Linked DNA regions of Homo sapiens: region 1 is reported to be linked to region 2. The links are microRNA targets in miRTarBase. Many come from high-throughput screens and were not tested one by one. Region 2 holds a microRNA gene; the other region holds the end of a gene's coding sequence. Distances are from middle to middle.
Evidence for each region. The annotated mature microRNA hsa-miR-6765-5p reads GUGAGGCGGGGCCAGGAGGGUGUGU and lies in region 2 at 3,604-3,628, shown strand. An mRNA with a match to its seed (bases 2 to 7 or 8) in the 3' UTR can be bound and repressed. Matches are read on the target gene's strand: a 7mer-m8 pairs with bases 2 to 8, a 7mer-A1 pairs with bases 2 to 7 and ends in A, and an 8mer does both.

Region 1 (7,335 bases), 50 Mb from region 2:
GCTCAGACAGGATCTCTGGTCACCATTATCTGAATTCTGCCTGGTGACATCAGTATACTTGAGCATTTATCTGAACACCTAGGCTAGCATAGTGCTGTCTTGGTCCTGAAGGCAGAGCAAGTGAGAATTCTGACTTTCTTTTGATCTAGAAGTTAAGTAACTCTGTAGACCTTTTATATTACTTTCACCCCAGAAGAAAATTCCATTTTTCCCCTTTTTGGATGCTTTAAGGATCAACTACTGATAAAAATAAAAGTTGCAAGACAACTTCAAGAACAAAAAGTTTAGGTTGCTGCAAAGATAATTGCAGTTTTTGCCATTATGTTCAATAGCAAGAACCGCAGTTACTTTTGCATGAACCTAATAGATAACATTTGTGTAAGAAGGGATATTTCGATATACTTGGTAACTGTGAGCTGAGATTTAATCTTTAGGCCTGCTTTTAAAAACCAAACCAGCAGCTGTCTACTCCTTTAAACAACCTGTGTTGCCTTATTTTGTAGACACATGTGTATGGTAATGCGAGGTGTACAGAAAATGAACAGCAAAACTGTGACCAGCACAATGTTGGGTGTGTTCCGGGAGGATCCAAAGACTCGGGAAGAGTTCCTGACTCTCATTAGGAGCTGAGCTTCATTCAGTGTGTGTGCGTTGGTTGCCGATCGTACTGCCAGTAGCATTGTCTGTCTGTCCGGTCTTGTTTGTACATTCCATTTTCAATTGTTACAGATGTGAACTTTATTCCTTGTCACTAATTATATTTAAAATTATTTCTAGGAAGTCAAATAAATATAATAAAGGGTTGAGCCCTCTACTTTCTTCTTGCCACCTTTTTGTGGCAATATTAAAGTGAACTGCTAATAGTGTAAGTACGTGCACAAAACCACTGCCAGATAACCAGAGGGGCCTGGGAAGGGAGAAGAATTAGTGTATTTTTTTCAAATAGTACAGTAATTTGCCTCATAAGCATAGGAGCATTGGGAATGAGAGGGAACTGTGCCCAGTATACTGTTTTTTTTCTTCCTCCAATAAAAGTGGTGTAGTGCCGAAAGTGCTAAAATATTTAGTGCGGTATTGCTCTGTGAATTCAAGTTCAACAGACTTCACTTTGGTCATGTTTATTAAACCACCAGTGACATTTAAAAATATATTTTTAGCAGTCGTAATGTTAGTCACCAAGGGAAGGTGGTGGAATGTCTATGTTTTTGATTTTACTGTGAGTTAAAAAGGCACATTTCTACCTTCTATTGTTTTTAAATTCAAGAATAGGGAATTAGTTCCTGGTGTTGTTTACGAGTGTATTCTCGTGTCAACATACAGGGATTTAGACATTTAACTCTCTGTGCCTTGATAAGAATATCATTTAGAGTGTAGATACTTTTGCCTTTTTAAAAAAGCCATTATTTTATGAGACTTAGTACTCACACTGCAAATAACTAGTCAGCTCAGTTTTAACTTTATAGGTTTATTGAGTTTCCTTTGTGTGATCCATGTAGATGCCTCAAAATGTTTCTTCTTCTTCTTTTTTTTAATCTTATAAGATATTTTTCTAAGTATTTCCAGAAACATTTGAGAGTGCCCATCATTTTCAGGTCTGCAGAACCATAGCTTCCACGCACCTGAACGAGCACAGAATGAACTGACGGTGGAAGACATTATGAGCTGTGTCCAACGTTTTAACCAAAGCGTATCGTACCAACGATCTGTGAAAATGCACTGGAAGCTTCTGGTCCCGGTTTCCTTTGTGGTCTATGTGGGTCTTGTCCTCATTGTAACTCCGTATAGATGGTATAGGTATTTTAATCCTGGAAGCTGTTGCCTTATTAATGATTATCTTAAAATTTCCTCCATTGGGGCAGCGTGGGCCAAATTAAAACAAACAAAACCGCAACTCCTCCACAGAAACACAAACACAGTTATTCCATGAAGTTTAGTATTTGGTTGACATAGTGCTCTTCAAATTCATCCCATTACCCTAAAAGTAATAACTTTGATGCTTGCTTTAACTTTAGTCCCATCTCTGCCACTTTGATGCTATTTGGGTTATGATGGGGCAAGATGGCAGAGGTATTGGGTTTTTTTGTTTTTTTCCATTCCTCTCTACTTCTGTTTCCTAGCTTTTTCTTTCTGGAGTTTAAGTACAGTGATGGTTGGCTTGAGTACCTTTTTAAATCTAGCCCAGTATAAACATTAGCCTGCTTAATATTTAGACATTTATAGGTAGAATTCTGAGCACTCAACTCATGTTTGGCATTTTAAAGTAAAAACAAGTGTGACTTCGAGGACCAAAGAAATTGTCAGCTATACATTTATCTTTATGAACTCATTTATATTCCTTTTTAATGACTCGTTGTTCTAACATTTCCTAGAAGTGTTCTTATAAAGGTCTAATGTATCCACAGGCTGTTGTCTTATTAGTAAATGCAAAGTAATGACTTTGTCTGTTTTACTCTAGTCTTTAGTACTTCAAAATTACCTTTTCATATCCATGATCTTGAGTCCATTTGGGGGATTTTTAAGAATTTGATGTATTTCAATACACTGTTCAAAATTAAATTGTTTAATTTTATGTATGAGTATGTATGTTCCTGAAGGTGGTCCTATTTAAATTATTAAACTATTGTAACTTTGTTCTTGTGAAAGTTGTTTCTTTTTCAACCACCACTATAAATATTTAAATAACTTGATTATTTTGGCTGTATTCTGTTTCAGCAAAGACATCATAAGGGCTTCTCCCAGCCATCAAAGCTATTTGAATACTAATCTCCATTATAGTACGAAGTAACCCCAGGTTCTGACAGTTTCTCCTTGGTATTTGGTTGGAGTCTTACCGTCCTCACTGTCTTGAGGTAATGGGAGGAGGAGGTCTGGGATAAGAGTCAGGAATCTGAGTGGCCCTCATGTCCCTGTTGTCTTAATGCTTAGTAGGTAACTTCAGCCCCCTGGGAACTGGCACTGTTTCCTACGTGGGAGCTGTTGGGGAAGGAAGAGTAGGCTGGGGCAGGGAGTGGAAAAGGGTTTCCTTCCCTCTTCTAGGAAGAGCCTGCCCAGGGCAAAACTTCCAGTTAGTGCAAGGGGTTTTGTGCTGCTCTTCTGTCCCATGCCCAACAACCTCCTTTCCCTCTTGCTAATGGTCTCCTCCCCATTCCGTGCTGCCCACAGGCAGAGGCCGCCCCTGCCCTCACTGGTGGCCAGCATGTCCAAGTACTGGGGCCTGCTGCTCCTTGTGGGACCCTGTGGACCGTTGGGTAGCAAATCTTATCAAAGTAGGAATGCTTACTGGCATAAAACATTCCTAGAACCACCACTCATAGGTGTCAATAAAACGATGAGCTGCTCAGCTAAGCCCGAGTTGCTGCTTCTGAGTTTTGTCACCGAAGATTGATTGGCCAAGTTCCTTTTCACTTAGTGGAAGAGCAGTTGCAGACATGAAAGGTTTTCAAGAAGCCTTTCTGTCAAAACAGAGCACCTGGATTCATCATCACAGGCATGGGTCCTCCTGCTGATGGAGAGAAGAAGAAGTCTCAAGAGATCAAGGGGAAGTGTGAGTACCTGACTCCTCACCCTCCCAGAGGCCCTTGCCTTCTTTTAATTTTTGTTACAGAAAATGAAACATGCACATCAGTAGAGAGATGAGCACATGAACCCCTGTGTACTAATCACCCAGCTTCAAGAAGTCTCAACTCAATGGCGCCATCTTGTTTTCCTCTATACCCATCTGACCAGATTATTGCAAAGCAAATCCCAGGCATTATTTCATCCATAAATATTTCAGATTATCTAAATAAAGTGGAATCAGGTAAAGAAATATATGATCAAATACATCCATTATCACACTAAAAATTAGTGTCAATTCAAATATCTAGATTTTCCCCTACTGTTGTGTAGTTTTTAGTAGTTTATTTGAATCAAGGTACAAACGAGATCCACACATTGCAACAGGTTGATTTAAGTCTCTTAAGAATCTTATATGTTCTCTTTCCACTCCCTCCTCTGTTTTCCTTAAAATTTATCTGGTCACTTGTTTTGGAGAAGCCCCGTGTTTATTCCAGGAACTGTCTGGTTGCTGGAATGTCTGTGGCTGTCCAAATGAGGTCAAACTCCAGCTAAACAGGGAAAAGAAGGGTTCTTTGCCACAACACTTCTCCACGTCCCTAAACCCCTACTCCTGGGCAGCCTAGCTTGGTCTGGTTCTGTCTGGCTTTTAACTGGAACATAGCTCTCCTTGGCTTTGTAACTTAGAGCCATTCCCCAGGTACAGAATAGAATTCATTGCTTTTTTCTGAGTGTGTCCTTTTTGGGCAAGGCTTCCATTTTAAAACATGCTGCCTTTGGCTTCAGCTTGGTGGATTCCTTGGCTGCCAAGATTTTGGTTAAGGTGGAAAGGTTATTACAGAAGTGAAAACAATGAATCTCACAGTAATTGGCATCACTTTGAGGGCCTACCCATGGGGAATTCCATTGGGTTGGACAGTAGGAGTACTTGGGTTTCTTCCCCCCGGCTCCTCGACCTCATCAATTACATTTTCATGACATCCTGAGTATGAATATCAGGCTCTGGCCGACAAAGGGTGGTGAAGGAAGACACACTGCGTCTTGCATTTAAGCAGCTCCCTTTATTCCCTCCCTAGCAGTGCAGCTATGACTTGCTTGTGGGTCCTGGTAGGATAACTCCTGGCACCTGCATTACACAGCCCTAATGCACCTATCCACTTTTCCTCTTATTTCTACATTCTCCTGTTTGTTTTGAGCAATATGTCCACAACTCTGACCTTTTGAGAAATCCTTTCAATCTGGAACTGACTGTGCTGCCCAGAGAAATGTGGTTTGGCTGCCGGTGAGCATTGGGAAGGTTGTGTGGAGGGAGTCCTGTGATGAAATGCCTGGGTGTGTGTATGTACAACTTCCTCTCAGGCTATTGATTTTCCCTGATTTTAGAATGCATTTTTTATTCTTCCTCCTTTTCCTGGATCCTTTCACATTCAAAAATGTACTGAACAAATAAATGAGATTTCTTTTTTTCTAATTTGTTTTTTTGTGGAGTTTCCCATTATATGTGTAGTGATAATTTTTACAGTCATTCTATCTAGACTGACAAAATTCTTTATGGAAACTTTTCTCTTTGCAAGGACATTTTACTTCTAAAACCAAGGGGGATAAACCGAATTAAAAAAAAAAGCTAGTAAATAAAAATCAGCTTAAAACCATTCTGGTTCTATCAGGGACCTCAGAATTATTGGTCCGTATTGGTCATCTGGTCATTGGTCTCCTAGCAGCTGCTCAACCAGTTTTGGCTGGAGGTGGGTTTTGGTCTCTGTCTCTCTTTGGCTTCACTGCTGCCAGCCTCAACTGCGTTCCTGATTGCTTGGGAAGAACGGCCTTTGACGTCTGTATCTGGACAGATGACAGTCTCTTGTGGGCCCACACAGTGGCTTCCGCTCCTCTCAATTTGGGAAATTTTAAAGGAATTTCCATTTGCAGATTGAACAAGTCTAACCAGAGAGAGGAAGCAACCTGACTGTTTCAGTTTGTACCTTTGAACTTTCAAGTACCTTTAACCAATTAGAGACAACTAATCTTTCTTTTGCTCTCTCTTTTTTTTTTTTTGGAGACAGAGTCTCGCTCTGTCGCCCAGGCTGGAGTACGGTGGCATGATCTTGGCTCACTGCAACCTTCACCTCCTGGTTCAAGCAATTCTCCTGCCTCAGCCTCCCGAGTAGTGGATTAAAGATGCCCTCCACCACGCCCAGCTAATTTTTGTATTTTTAGTAGAGACAGGGTTTCACCCTGTTGGTCAGGCTGGTCTCGAACTCCTGACCTCAAGTGATCCACCCGCCTTGGCCTCCCAAAGTGCTAAGACTACACTCAGCTCAAAGTGCTGAGCCACTGTGCCCGGCCCAAGACAACTAATCTCAGAGCAAAATTTCTTGCCTGAAGTCTCATTTCTGAAAGTTGATTTGCATGTGATCAAGGAGTATTTGAAGTCTTATCCAAATCTTAGCTGACCTTCTCTTGCTTAACAGTTGTCAGAATCACCTCTTAATGAAGGGGTTGGTGGAGTCAGCACTTGACTCTAACAGAATTTCCATATAAATTTAATATATTTAAAAAATAATTATGAATAAAAAGTATCACGTGCACTTGAAGTATAGACAAGCCAACAATGAATTCTCATTGTCTTTTTAACTAGAACACACACAAAACAGGACATTAAAATCAACATGAAACCCTGAGCTCTGAGAACTCATAATTTGTTTCCTGCATTTTAGTGTTTGGGGGATGGAAAACAAATCTTCCAGATTTTCTGTGTGTGTGTGTATGTATGTGTGTGTGTGTACCCAACACCGAATCTGGAAGACTTGTTATAAGGAAGAATATATATTTTTTCTTTCTTTCTTTTTTTTTTTTTTTTTTTTTTTTTTTTTTTGAGGCAGTATCTTGCTCTGTTGTTGCTCAGCCTGGAGTGCAGTGGCATGAACACAGCTCACTGCAACCTCTACCTCCCTGGCTCAAGCGATCCTCCTGCCTCAGCCCCCCAAGTAGCTGGGACTATAGACACATGCTACAGTGCCCAGCTAATTGAGTATTTCCATTTTATAAGTGAGTTGGGTGTCAGGGAGGGTCAAATGATGTGCGTCACCCACACTGGGTTAAAGAGGTGATGTTGCTCCCTGGACTCTGCTTCTGTTGACCTTTCTGTTAACCAGTGGGCCCAGCCCCTTAGGTTACCTCTGGCTCCCATTGTAGCTGGTTAATCTTTTCCAGGTGCCCTCTGTCACTCTGTGCCCCCACATATTTGAAGATGTATACTATCACCTTTGCCCTTTGAACTCAAAGGTGCTGCTGGGAGTGATTATAGGAGTGTGAGATGGTCACCTTGTAGTTCCATGTAATCACACTGTCTTAAATGCTCAAATTAAAAAAAATAAATAAAAACTGGTAATTCTGTGGTTAGCACAAAATTCAAACATCACAAAATAATTAAGGAAACATTTACCTTCACCTCTGCTCCCAAGTAAGCCAGGCAGCTGCTATCATCAGAGATATTTAATGAAATTCTTTACTTTCATGGCAGAATGAAAATCTTTGTCTCCTGCATGTAGGCTGACTTTATGTACTTCCTAATGGTAGAAGGTGTAACTCTAAACTGGTGAGGAGTTTGTGTAACTATCAGAATGTAAAATCCATTATGTTTATTCTGGTGTTCTTTCAAAGTCATTAGATGCTTTCTCTGAATTTTTTTTTTTTTTAGCAAAATCATCTGCAAAAGAAAAATGTGTCCTCCTTACAGAACTTTGACCACCTTAGCAAAAGAAAAGCAGATTCTGGCAAACT
Region 2 (7,778 bases):
GAAGTCAGCAGGGCAACCAGAGGGGCTGGGGCCCAGGGTCTGGGGTGGGCACGGGCTTCGAGCCGTGGCGCTCACTGTGCGTGAGCAAGCTGGGGAGCCCGAGAGAGGGGCGCGAGCGGGTGGAGAGACAGCAGGTGGAGGTGAGCACCGCCCTCCAGCCAGCCTTGGATTGCAGGGGTCCCAGGACCTCCCTCTGTGGAGTGGGTTTGCCTCCATGGGACGAGGACACTGGGGCACAGAGAGCCTACTGATTTCCCCAGGGTCACACAGCGTGGCGTTTTGGAGAGGAGTCGGGGAGTTTGGGAACCAGCTGAGTTGGGAGCCAAGGTGGGGAGGTGGGTGACCCTTCCACAGGCCCCACGGTTGAGTGGCCTGGAGGGTACAGTGAGGAGCTTTCCCGGCCAGTCCCAGAGCGGGGAGGCAAGCAGGGCTGGGGCCGCCCACCCGGTCACTTGCACACACAGGGATTCCCGGCAGGTTGAGCGAGTCCCAAGTCAGCTCAGAAAGTGCAACAAGGTGGACCTGGTCTGGGCAGATGTAGATGTAGATCTACGGGAGTCGGCCCCACTCACCCTCGCCTGGCCCAGTGTGCATCACACAACCTGGATGGCAGTGCCACCCTCCCTGGATGGCTGCTGGCTGGCAGCTTGAATGTCACACCAAGGCTGGAGGAAGGCAGCAGAGAAGTTGGCCATCCCTGCCCTTTACCCGCAGGAAGATGAGCCGGAGTCTGGGGGGCCTGGTGGGTGGGGGCAGTAGGTGAGCTCCGCCTGCCCCTCTTGCTGGCCCTGTCGGGGAGGCCCAGCTGTTGCTGACAGCCTCGGCTCAGGTTCCAGTGCAGGACGCCCCCCCACCGGATGCTGCGGAGATGGCCATGCCTTCCTGCCGCCGCCTCTCCAGGGCCCTGGGGCTGCTGGCTGGGGAAACCAGGAGGTGGGGGCCTGGTGTGGGCTGCCCTGCCCAGGGTCGAGAGCACGCCCTTGGGACCCACGAGGTCTGGGCTCTGAGCCCGGCTGTGGCCGCTCTCTGGCCGATGACCCAAGGTGTGTCACAGCCCCGCCCTGAGCCTGGGTCTCTGTGTCTGTGGAGGAGGGATTCTAGGCGGGATGTGAGGCCACCCACGCGGACCACTGTGCATGCTGGGCTGGATACTGGAGACACGTTCTTCCCGGCCTCAGTTTCCCCATTTGTGGCAGCTGAACTGGGCTGATAGGCCTTCGGTGCTGGCTGTGTGGCTTGAGGGCGGCTCAGGAAGGGCCGTGGTTCTTTCCTTTTACAAAAATAAAGTGTGGCGGGTGCCGGTGTGGAAGTGACGTGGCCTGGATGACATTCCCGTCCTGCAGGACCGGAGAGTTCTAGGAAGGGCCCCCCGGGAGTCCCGGCAGGGCCTGGATGGCAGCCTGCTGAGCCTTGGGGTCGTTGCAGGCTCTCTCCCCTGACGGAGGCACCCTCAAGTCAGGCCATGTTCTACCCTGGCCACCTGCCCTCTCCTGGGGGACTCCCAAGACAGGACGTTGGCCGATAGCCTGGGGCAGGGCGAGTCCTGGTGGTTGTGTCCTGGGGGGTGCAGCTGGGGGTGCAGCTGGAGCTCCTGCAGAATCAGGAACTACCCTGGGCAGGGCTGGCCCAGGCCAGCCTGTGGGCCTCAGTAGCCCCATCTGTGAGATGGGTACCTTGTGGGACTTTACTGGGAGCGAGCGAAATGACTGCCTTTGAGGTGGGGGCGAGGGCACGTGCTGTGCCCAGGGCCACATGGCCGAGGCAGAGCCAGGAGTGCTCCCCTGCTGCCCGCTGGCCTACCCAGCCCCTGGTGCCTCCCGGCCCTGGCAGCACCTTGTGAGTCCGAGCCGGCATTCTCATCCCCGGGGTCCCGGCAGGGCCTTCCTTTCCTGGTGCCTGCTCTCGGGGCCCAGCTCACGGGTGAATCCCAAAATAGCTCAGGGAGGAGTGACGGGACAGCTGGGGCTGACCGTCGGCAGCCAGCGGCCGGGAATGCCCGTGACAGTGGGGCTGGCCGGCAGGGCTGCAACCCCTGCCTGGCTGGGGCTGCTCCAGTTCAAAGGCCTGAGGCCGCCCGCCGGCCCTGGGTGTGGCGTGGGTGACTGTGCCTGGCTCCCCTGCCACCCTTTCAGGCACCACAGCTCACTGGGTCTTGCGCCCCTCCTCCTTCCCCCAGGTGCAGCTACGGCTGGCAAGGGAGGTTCTGCGATGAGTGTGTCCCCTACCCCGGCTGCGTGCATGGCAGTTGTGTGGAGCCCTGGCAGTGCAACTGTGAGACCAACTGGGGCGGCCTGCTCTGTGACAAAGGTAGTGGTAGGGGGCGGCAGGCCTAATGCTCTGCCATCGAAGTGTGGGTTGTGGGGGAGCGGGGGGCCGGCTTTTCCCCTGAGCATCCCACCCCTGCCCCCAGACCTGAACTACTGTGGCAGCCACCACCCCTGCACCAACGGAGGCACGTGCATCAACGCCGAGCCTGACCAGTACCGCTGCACCTGCCCTGACGGCTACTCGGGCAGGAACTGTGAGAAGGGTACGTGGGGGGCTGGCCACCCAAATTCTGGCCAGGCAGGGACTGGTTCCCTGGGGAGCCGGTCAGGCCCCATCCCTCTGGCGTCCTGTGTGGTGGGCCCCTGACCCCCAGCTTGGGAACCTGTGGGCTTGGGGAGGAGTGCTTGTGGAAAGCTGGGGGCCTGGCTGCCAGCTCTGCCCCCTCCCCGCGGTTCTACAGCTGAGCACGCCTGCACCTCCAACCCGTGTGCCAACGGGGGCTCTTGCCATGAGGTGCCGTCCGGCTTCGAATGCCACTGCCCATCGGGCTGGAGCGGGCCCACCTGTGCCCTTGGTGAGTGTCTGCACGTGAGTAGGGGACTCCTGCCTAGTATCAGTGGGGGTCTGGGAGTGGGGCAACTCGCTGGGGATGGGGTGCAGTGGTCAAGTCCACACGTGTGGCTGCGGCTGGCTTGGCGAGGACAAATGGCAGGAAGACCCAGGCTTGCAGCGCCACCTGCCCATGGGGACCTTATTCCCACGGCTCACACTGCCAGGGCCCCACCTTTCTCCACCCTCTGCAGACATCGATGAGTGTGCTTCGAACCCGTGTGCGGCCGGTGGCACCTGTGTGGACCAGGTGGACGGCTTTGAGTGCATCTGCCCCGAGCAGTGGGTGGGGGCCACCTGCCAGCTGGGTAAGGGCTCCGAGCGAGTGCATGGGAACGTGGGCCGCGCATGCGGGCTGCGGGGGCTGCTGGGGCTGCGGGGGCTGCTGGGGCTGCTGGGGCTGCTGGGCTGCGGGTGCCAGGTGCCCGTGCTGCAGGGGGCAGGCAGGGCCCGAGCCCCACGGCTCCCACCTTGTCTCTTTCACAGACGCCAATGAGTGTGAAGGGAAGCCATGCCTTAACGCTTTTTCTTGCAAAAACCTGATTGGCGGCTATTACTGTGATTGCATCCCGGGCTGGAAGGGCATCAACTGCCATATCAGTCAGTATGGGGGGTGGGCGCCGGCGGGTGGGCCGAGGCACATGGGACCCCGCCTCTGACCCTGCTCCTCTGCCCCCAGACGTCAACGACTGTCGCGGGCAGTGTCAGCATGGGGGCACCTGCAAGGTGAGGCGGGGCCAGGAGGGTGTGTGGCGTGGGTGCTGCGGGGCCGTCAGGGTGCCTGCGGGACGCTCACCTGGCTGGCCCGCCCAGGACCTGGTGAACGGGTACCAGTGTGTGTGCCCACGGGGCTTCGGAGGCCGGCATTGCGAGCTGGAACGAGACGAGTGTGCCAGCAGCCCCTGCCACAGCGGCGGCCTCTGCGAGGACCTGGCCGACGGCTTCCACTGCCACTGCCCCCAGGGCTTCTCCGGGCCTCTCTGTGAGGTGAGGTCTGCCTGGTCACCCTGCCCCACCTGCTGCTCTGGGAGCTGTAGGGCAGGCCTCGTCCCCTGACCATGGGGCCTGAGTGACCCAGGGGTGCTGCAGGGGAAGTTGTCCCCAAGGCGTCCCAGGCTCAGCTCTCCACTGGGTGCCAGGTGGGCAGGCGGGGCTGTCACAGGTCACCAGGCTTGGCCCCCTGTGGCCATTGCTTGTTGTGATGGGTTTCCTGGTGGCCTGGGCTAGGAGCCCCCGGGCTGCTGGCTGCCCAGGCCTATCTGTCCATCTGTGCACTCCCTCGGGACTGGAGGGCAGGGGGCTCTGGTGGGCAGAGCACATGGGGTAGGGTGGGTGCCTGATGGTGGAGAGGTATACACCTGTCATAGGTGAGTCCTGGGTCGGAGTGGGCATCTCTCTCAGGGCTGATGCTCTCGCCTCCCTCTGACCATCTGTTGGTACTGGACCCCCTCCCCCAACCTCCCCTTCCCCCCTGCCTCCAAAGTAACCTGCCTTCCCCCTTCCCCACCACCCCTACCACCCCCTTCCCCACCTCCCCCTTCCCCACCTCCCCCAACCCTGCCTCCCCCCACCCACCTCACTATCACCCCTCCCCTACCTCCCCCAACCCTGCCTCCCCCCACCCACCTCCCTACCACCCCCTTCCCCACCTCCCCCAACCCTGCCTCCCCCCACCCACCTCCCTACCACCCCCTTCCCCACCTCCCCCAACCCTGCCTCCCCATTACCTGCCTCCCTACCACCCCCTCCCCTTACTTCCCCTTTTTCCCTGCCTCCCCCCACCCACCTCCCTACCACCCTCGGCCGCCCACGATCCTGCCCTGGCCTTGGTGCAGAGGATGGGCCTCCTGTCCAGAGGGCTTCTTGGGGCCCAGGGCAGGGGTCTGACCTCAGGACCTGCAAGCATGGCAGTGGCTGGCCCTGGAAAAGACCCACAGTCTTGGCTCTGAGGGTGGCCAGGCAGTGTGTGAGGGGCTCAGGAGCTGTCCTTCCTGCCAGCAGCAGGGGCCAAGGCCACACTCCTCCCGAGGGACAGTGAGGAAGCTGGGCTGCAGTGGAGGTGGGGGTGGGGGCCCACAGGTATCTGCGTTCAGCTAAGGCCTGGGCAGTCTCAGGTGGGCAGGGGTCTTGGGCTCTGGCTGGCACTGTTAGGCCCAGGGCGGAGGGGCCTGGGGGTCCCCAGGGATCTACCTTCGTATGGACAGAGGCCTGGCCTGTGTTCCCGGCCTGGGCCTGGGCCTAGGCTCTCACAGGCACCCCCCACCCTGCAGGTGGATGTCGACCTTTGTGAGCCAAGCCCCTGCCGGAACGGCGCTCGCTGCTATAACCTGGAGGGTGACTATTACTGCGCCTGCCCTGATGACTTTGGTGGCAAGAACTGCTCCGTGCCCCGCGAGCCGTGCCCTGGCGGGGCCTGCAGAGGTGCTGGGTGCGGCATGGGGTGGTGGGGGAGGTGGTGGGGCAGGGGCGGGCCTGACTCCTGACTGTACTGCCTGCCATAGTGATCGATGGCTGCGGGTCAGACGCGGGGCCTGGGATGCCTGGCACAGCAGCCTCCGGCGTGTGTGGCCCCCATGGACGCTGCGTCAGCCAGCCAGGGGGCAACTTTTCCTGCATCTGTGACAGTGGCTTTACTGGCACCTACTGCCATGAGAGTGAGTGGCCACGAACGGCGGGCTGGTGGTGGGGCTGGGCTGGCCTGAGGCCCTGGCTCACCCCGCTCGCCTCTGCAGACATTGACGACTGCCTGGGCCAGCCCTGCCGCAATGGGGGCACATGCATCGATGAGGTGGACGCCTTCCGCTGCTTCTGCCCCAGCGGCTGGGAGGGCGAGCTCTGCGACACCAGTGAGTGTTCCAGCACCCGCCCACACGGCCTGTGCCTCCACCCCTGTGGGCCCCTTATCACCCTGAGATGGACCGCTGTCTGGGTGCGGCAGGCCCCGTACCCAGAAAGGCCTGGCCAGGGGGTGCTGCCACCATGGGGTGGAGTCCCAGGCTGCCCCCATGCCCGAGGCCAGCTCCCCCGGCCCGACGCTCCTCCCCCGCCCCTCTCTGTCCTCACCTGGCCCAGCTCCAGTGCTTCCTCCCCCGGGAAGCCCTCCCTGAGCGCCGGTGACCCCCCGCCCGCTGACCGGCGTCCTCGCCCCCAGATCCCAACGACTGCCTTCCCGATCCCTGCCACAGCCGCGGCCGCTGCTACGACCTGGTCAATGACTTCTACTGTGCGTGCGACGACGGCTGGAAGGGCAAGACCTGCCACTCACGTGAGTGTCCGCAGGCCCTGGCCGCCTGGGGCTGCCCCCAGGACCCTGGCCCTGGCGGTCTGGGGCCTGCCTGCTGAGCGGCCCATGTGCCAACAGGCGAGTTCCAGTGCGATGCCTACACCTGCAGCAACGGTGGCACCTGCTACGACAGCGGCGACACCTTCCGCTGCGCCTGCCCCCCCGGCTGGAAGGGCAGCACCTGCGCCGTCGGTGAGGAGCCCCCGCTGCCTCTGCGACCGCCGGGCATATGCCCTCCCAGGCACCGCTCCCTCGGGCGCGATGGGCCGAGGGGTCTTTTTTGAGGGCCACACCTGCCACCTGCCCCCTGCCCCCTGCCCCCGGGTCTGTCTGCCCTGTCTGGGTTGGGGGCGCGGTATGGAGACCCAGGGCCAGCCCAGGGCCAGGTGAGACGCTCCCTCCTCCTCCTCTCCTTACAGCCAAGAACAGCAGCTGCCTGCCCAACCCCTGTGTGAATGGTGGCACCTGCGTGGGCAGCGGGGCCTCCTTCTCCTGCATCTGCCGGGACGGCTGGGAGGGTCGTACTTGCACTCACAGTGAGTGTGGGAGGGGTGTGGGCGGGGGCCGCTTTCCTCCACCCAGATGACATCCCTGCCCCCGACTCGCCCCCCAGTCCCTTCTGCCAGCCCCTCCCCCTGCTGCCCCTGCCCCCAGCAAAAGGCACCCTCCTTGATGACCCTCCCCAGCCCCACAGCCTGATCACGCCAAGCCAGCCTGGACAGTGCCTGGCACGCTTGGGGGGTGGGTACTGATCCCCTGCGTTCTCTTCTCCCAAACCAGATACCAACGACTGCAACCCTCTGCCTTGGTGAGTGGCACCCTGGGGGCCACAGCAGGGGTGGGTGGGACTTGGCATACCACGGGGGGCCACCTGATGCCCACCCTCTGCTCTGCAGCTACAATGGTGGCATCTGTGTTGACGGCGTCAACTGGTTCCGCTGCGAGTGTGCACCTGGCTTCGCGGGGCCTGACTGCCGCATCAGTGAGTGGCCAGACAGCCCCAGCCCTGGGAGCCCCTCAGCCCAGCCGCGGTGTCAGGAGTCTGGGGACATCAACGTCCACGTCCCTTGAAGGGCAGTGTGGCCACAACTACTTCCTGCCTCTCTTCTGAGCCTCAGTTTCCCCACATGTCTGTGCCCTGTGGGGTTCCTGCTGTATACCCTGCCAAGTGATTAAGTGGGGAGCCCCAGCCTGGGGGACCAGTCCGGGGCCCAGGGAGCTGTGGGGGTTGGAGCGTGCAGCCTGACGTGGGCTCCTCTGTGGCCGCAGGGCTGTTGTCCCTGGGTGTTGGCCCAGCTGTCTGTCCAGCACCCCTTGGCTGGTCCGACGCAGCAGCTGGGGCTAATCCAGGATGGGACAGGCCCACTGCAGAAGCAGACGGAGGAGGGTGCTGTTGGGCCAGGGTCAGGCTGGGCTCAGGAAGGCCTCAGGCAGGCAGCAGCTTGGGCTCGGGGGCAGGGGCTGCTCCTCATTGTCCTGGGGCTTGCGCCTGTGTGCCACTGGCTCCCCGCTGCCCTAGGCCATGCCGGTCCTGCGGTGGGCGTTGGCCTCACTGCACTGAGCAGCGGTGGCTCTCCCTGCAGACATCGACGAGTGCCAGTCCTCGCCCTGTGCCTAC

Region 1: the mRNA of GCH1 is a reported target of hsa-miR-6765-5p. Seed matches in the 3' UTR shown: 7mer-A1 at 1,499-1,505.

The regions. Positions count from the first base shown.
Region 1 is chr14:54,837,312-54,844,646 of GRCh38, reverse strand. GCH1 (GTP cyclohydrolase 1) reads left to right here. Exons shown (of 6, transcript NM_000161.3): 6 at 504-2,630. The coding sequence ends at 630. Among named protein-coding and RNA genes, the nearest start is that of MIR4308, 37 kb to the left of the region's middle.
Region 2 is chr14:105,146,690-105,154,467 of GRCh38, reverse strand. MIR6765 (microRNA 6765) reads left to right here and starts at 3,604; the gene lies at 3,604-3,690. JAG2 (jagged canonical Notch ligand 2) reads left to right here. Exons shown (of 26, transcript NM_002226.5): 6 at 2,177-2,307; 7 at 2,411-2,530; 8 at 2,729-2,842; 9 at 3,072-3,185; 10 at 3,364-3,477; 11 at 3,557-3,603; 12 at 3,691-3,864; 13 at 5,148-5,298; 14 at 5,379-5,531; 15 at 5,610-5,723; 16 at 6,029-6,142; 17 at 6,239-6,352; 18 at 6,580-6,696; 19 at 6,941-6,968; 2 more.